Regions from separate parts of the Homo sapiens genome. Here region 2 is linked to region 1. The links come from fine-mapping of genetic effects on gene expression. A gene starts in region 1. The other region holds a variant in brackets. All regions are shown on one strand. Distances are from middle to middle. Region 1 holds the start of TRIM5 (tripartite motif containing 5). Region 2 overlaps TRIM5 (tripartite motif containing 5).

Evidence for each region. PIP is the estimated chance that this variant, and not a neighbour inherited with it, causes the effect. A credible set is the group of variants that fine-mapping cannot tell apart.
Region 2: its variant is the best candidate, but not a certain one, in a credible set for the expression of TRIM5 in nasal epithelium (TOPMed, PIP 0.84).

Annotation. Positions count from the first base shown.
Region 1 is chr11:5,683,392-5,686,422 of GRCh38, forward strand. TRIM5 (tripartite motif containing 5) reads right to left here and starts at 1,683. Exons shown (of 8, transcript NM_033034.3): 1 at 1,477-1,683. RefSeq lists an enhancer at 1,441-1,690.
Region 2 is chr11:5,663,707-5,666,471 of GRCh38, forward strand. It overlaps TRIM5 (tripartite motif containing 5), which reads right to left. Exons shown (of 8, transcript NM_033034.3): 6 at 2,275-2,375; 7 at 1,950-1,976; 8 at 1-1,689. The coding sequence ends at 1,103. Among named protein-coding and RNA genes, the nearest start is that of TRIM5, 20 kb to the right of the region's middle. The variant G/A (reference allele first, on the strand shown) is at 1,330.

The DNA of each region.
Region 1 (3,031 bases):
AACCTTTATGTTTAGCTAAGGGATTGTAAATGCACCAATCAGCACCCTGTGTCTAGCTCAGGGTTTGTGAATGCACCAATCGACACTCTATATCTAGCTACTCTGGTGGGGACTTGGAGAAACTTTATGTCTAGCGAAGGGATTGTAAATACACCAATCGGCACTCTGTATCTAGCTCAAGGTTTGTAAACACACCAATCAGCACCCTGTGTCTAGCTCGGGGTTTGTGAATGCACCAATCGACACTCTGTATCTAGCTACTCTGGTGGGGATGTGGAGAATCTTTGTGTCTACACTCTGTATCTAGCTAATCTAGTGGGGACTGGAGAACTTTTGTGTCTAGCTCAGGGATTGTAAATGCACCAATCAGTGCCCTGTCAAAACAGACCACTCGGCTCTCTGTAAAATGGACCAATCAGGAGGATGTGGGTGGGGCCAGATAAGAGAATAAAAGCAGGCTGCCTGAGCCAGCAGTGGCAACCTGCGCTGGTCCCCTTCCACACTATGGACGCTTTGTTATTTTCCTCTTTGCAATAAATCTTAATACTGCTCACTCTTTGGGTCCACACTGCCTTTATGAGCTGTAACACTCACCGCGAAGGTCTGCAGCTTCCCTCCTGAGCCAGCGAGACCACGAACCCACCAGAAAGAAGAAACTCTGAACACATCCGAACATCAGAAGGAAGAAACTCCGGACATGCCGCCTTTAAGAACTGTAACACTCACTGCAAGCGTCCGCGGCTTCATTCTTGAAGTCAGTGAGACCAAGAACCCACCAATTCCGGACACAGTATGAAGACATGTGTTTATAAACAGAGGTGGCACAACTGGAGTTCCACCCTATAGGCTAACACTCCTTTCTCTCCCCGTACTCAGTTCTTTTAAAGCCAATGCTTTCCACTGTTTTGGGGGAGGGGGCTTTAGAGAAGGAGCTCTCTTACTCTCCACTCCTAGCAAGAAATAAAACCTGCTTGCCTTTTTTCCCATTATCTTTGTAACCAATATGAACTAGGGAAAGAACTCCATTTACAGTGACAATGACAGGACTACAGAACTGGACAGCTGTCACACCATGAAGGCTGATGTCACAGAGCCAGGCCAAGGTGATGAGAACTGACCTGTAGAGTTATGCAGAAACACTACATTAGTAAACTAATAGGCATTAAATCATTAGGATTCCAAGGCCCCTGTCTTTGCCCTTGTTGTTGGGAGAAGACACTGAAAGAGAGAATTCTGGCTCTCTACAGCAAAGTTCAATTAAAAAGTATAGAGTAGGGAGGGGATGGGGAGAGAGTCAGCATGGAAAAATAACCAGCCTTCGGGAAACAAAGCCCTTCACTTTAAAGCTCTCCCTTCTTTCAAATCTGCCTGCCCGCCAGGCGGCTCTGTTCCCCTCAGTCAGCTCTGGCAGCAAGAAGTCTGTGAACTGTGTCTTTTCCCCACCCCCGCACAGCTTTTCAGATAAGTTAAACTCACCAAGGTAAATACAGTTTTGTCCCAAAGACTTCCTACTTCTGCCCTCCACAAAATCACTCAATACACCTTCAGACACCAGTGCAGAAGTGGTGATTCTGGGGAGAAGAGTGAAGACAGGCCAGGGAAGACGTGGTTAGGATTCACTCACCAATCCACGGGCCTGATCTGCACAAAGGAATTTTCCTAGAGGAACCGCAGGAAATTCTTGCTCACACTCAGGGCAGGAAAGTGAAAGATAAACTATGGGCCAATGGCATTTCTCCACGTAGGGCCTGGTGAGTCCCGCCCTCTGAATGAATCAGCCGGGCCGTGTAGCTGTGCTGTTCACAGGAGGAGCCGTGGGAACTAGAGGCATTCCCACTCAATCTCCCTTTTCTCTTGAGTCTCAGGATCTTGTTATCATGCCACTTCTTCTGACATAGTTTCAGATTAACCCAGCCAAGTATTAAAAATTAGAAAAGGTGCCCTTTTTCGAAATTCTTCCAATGTGCTCCTCTTGCTCCTGATCTCACAGCTGAGTTCTGCTTCTGGGTGACAGATATGGCCCAAAGAGAAGGAAGAACAAAGTTAATGATTTTTAGAGAATTGCAGTAGATTTCTGGTCTGGACTTAAAAATCTTATAGGACCTATGAACAGAAAAGGAGCTGCAGGTAGGAGAGATGTCATATTATTAAGACTCCGAAACCCAGAGAGGACAGGATGCTAGAAATTTATCTGGAGAGGGCCGGGCGCGGTGGCTCACGCCTGTAATGCCAGCACTTTGGGAGGCTGAGGCGGGCGGATCACAACGTCAGGAGATCGAGACCATCCTGGCTAACACGGTGAAAACCCATCTCTAATAAAATAAAATAAAATAAAATAAAATAAAAAATTAGCCGGGCATGGTGGCGGGTGCCTGTGGTCCCAGCTATTCCGGAGGCTGAGGCAGCAAAATGGCGTGAACCCGGGAGGCGGAGCTTGCAGTGAGCAGAGATCGCGCCACTGCACTCCAGCCTGGGCGACAGAGTGAGACTCCGTCTCAAAAAAAAAAAAAAAAAAAAAAAAAAAAAGAAGTTTATCTGGAGAGCGATAAAGAAATACCACATTATTTCTTTCAACTATTCACTTTCAAAGAACTCTCCAACTTCCCGCTGTTGTCTTTTCCAAAGTATCTATTGCATCCCTGAGCAGGGCCAGGCCTTCCTCTCTCTTCTCTTCTGGTTACTATGCAAAACTGGTCCAAAAGGCTGAACTGTGGTCCATGTACCATAGCCTCCCTTCTAAGCTTTCCCTTACTGGAACATCTCAGGAAGTCCACACTGGAACTAGGATCATTGGTAGAGAGGAGTATTTAGTTTGAAAATGAAAATGCCTCAGGAGAAGGCAATGGGGAGCACTGCAGTGGGCAGCCTGTTATCACTTAATTCCATCATCAGTAACCTCATACCCCCTCCACACTGTACCCCCGCAGCTTTCTGTTTCATGAAATCAGGTAGGGGGCTTTTGCATTTTGTTCTTTATTGTCTCAGATTTACTAGAATATGGTGTATATAAGGAGTAATATTTAAATAGATA
Region 2 (2,765 bases), 20 kb before region 1:
GTAATAACCGAACCAGGGTAATTAGCATATCCATCACCTCAAATATGTGTCATTTCTTTGTGTTGAGAACTTTCAAAATCCTCTCTTCTAGCTATTTCAAAATATATGCAATAGGTTATTGTTAACTCTAGTCACCCTACTATGCAATAAAACATTAGCACTTATTTAATGTGAAGTTTTTAATACAAAAATTATTTTAAGAAAATAAGCACAGGCTGGGCGCCGTGGCTCACGCCTGTAATCCCAGCACTTTGGGAGGCCGAGGCGGGTGGATCACCTGAGGTCAGAGGTTCTAGACGAGCCTAACCAACATGGGGAAACCCCGTCTCTACTGAAAATACAAATTTAGCCAGGGGTGGTGGTGGGCACCTGTAATCCCAGCTACTTGGGAGGCTGAGGCAGGAGAATTGCTTGAATCTGAGAGGTGGAGGTTGCAGTGAACCGAGATCGTGCCATTGCACTCCAGCCTGGGGAACAAGAGCAAAACTTCATCTCAAAAAAAAAAAAAAAGAAAAAAGAAAAGAAAAGGAAATAAGCACAGCCATTTAAGTATGTTATTCACAGTTACACTGCTGGTATATGGAGAGACAGGAGTTGAACTGAGATCCTCTAGATACAAAACCTCTATACTTAAGAGTATACCATTTATGATATTTTCTCTTTAACTCACAAATAAGGGCATCGAGGGTAAACTGACACAGGGCTAAGGACTCATTCATTGGTGAACAATTATCACACGATGATATAGAAAGGCTGTTGAAAAGCTTTTCTTCATCTTCTTAGTCAGTGTCAGAGGCAATTGGGTGATAAATATCTGGCAGAAGTAATACCTAAATAGCGGTCTCATTTTATGAGGTATAGGTCAGTTTTCCTTAGGAGTACGGAAAATGATGAAAAAAATTGCTATCAAATGTCAATAAAATATTGGGGACAATATGGCACAAGGCAATTATTACATTTTACTGATGAGTGAAGGACGTTCAAATAGAAAGAAGGGAGACAGCAAGGAAAAGATGGTTAAAATGATGCAAATGAGTTCAGGTGTATGAGATGCACCTGGACAAGAGGTGCTGTACAGAAGGGGCTGAGTGTGTAAGAAGGTTCAAGAGCTTGGTGAGCACAGAGTCATGGGGACTCCACATTTTCTAGGATTTAAATATGGAAATACAGGCTGAGAAAAAGAACAGTGAGAAAACTTATAGATGAGAAATCCATGGTTTGTGATATTGAAGAATGAGACAGTGCAAGCCTCATAGTCTAGGAAAACTCCAACACGATCAGGACAAATAATCACAGAGAGGGGCACAATGAAAGGAACAGAAGGAGTAT[G/A]GAAGGAACTATCCTGGAAAGCACTACATTTAACTCCTTCCTCTAACCCTATAACCCAGTAGCCGTATTTAGGTTGATAATTTTCATTTTTTTCAATATTACACATTGCATCAGGTTGGAAGCCAGCACATACCCCCAGGATCCAAGCAGTTTTCTTGGACACGTCTACCTCCCAGTAATGTTTCCCTGATGTGATACTTTGAGAGCCCAGGATGCCAGTACAATAATTGAAATTCACAAATGTCTGGTATCTTGTCCCTCGTGCCCCATATATTATCTGTGGTTTCGGAGAGCTCACTTGTCTCTTATCTTCAGAAATGACAGCACATGAAATGTTGTTTGGAGCCACTGTCACATCAACTGTAGAAAAATTAACAGGTCAGCTAAGGGATATAATGTAACTTTATTTGTGATATGAGAGAAATCTTGATAAAGACTTGAGAGAAAACTGGGAGGAACCTTGTTTAGAAGTTATAAGGAGGGGTAAGTTATGTGTGTCTTGGAAGGAGAATCATAAATCTTAAAACATGAGCCTAATAGAGAACATAAAATTCTAAAAGATAAAGATAATAATAATGATAAGCCGCAGGGTGGCTTATGATAATGTGACTTCTCCTTACCCCAGTAGCGTCGGACATCTGTCAGCTCTGAAATGATAAAAATGCACAATATTGAATACAAACAAAGGAGTCAGCACTGAAATTCATTTTCTCTCCAGATTAGGGAAAGAGTAGGTATGCCCTATGGTAGGGCAGTAAATTGCTGAATGATGAGATGAAACAGCCACCTAGCCATTTCCCATTAAATATAATCCCATCAGCAGCAGACAATATCTATCCTCCCCTATCCCCTCTATCCATATTTGGAAACTGCACCCTCTTCCCTATTTAGCACCCTAACACCACTTGAATTCCATAACCCTGTTGTTGATCTAGCTCTCCTCACCTCTAAACACTTCTAGCATTCCTTTCAGATCAGGAGCTCGAAACACTCTCCTTTGATTTTTTGGAAAAGTTTCTGGCTTCTTCAAGGTCACGTTCTCCGTCCTAAGAATTAAAAAAAAAAAAAAAAACTTCCAAACCTTTGACCTTGTGTCCGTGGAACACCCCTGACTTCCTATCATTTCAACCCATTGAGGCACTTGAACTCTCTTCTTGGGGATCCTGAGAAGGGAGAGTGCAAACTCTTGACCCTGGAGGCAAACAAAATGTTCTCATGTTTGCCTTCCCACTTACTTTCTGTGAGAACGTGGGAAGATCTTAACCTCTCAGAAGCACAGTTTCTTCCTTCTAAAATGAAATAATTAACCTCTCCCTGTCTACATTCTTAAACTCATAGGACATAAAAAAAAAAAAAAGGATTTTAAAACAAAACAAAACAAAACTTTGGTGCCTTACAAAAGAAACCCTAACATTTAATGGGTGGAAACATCATCG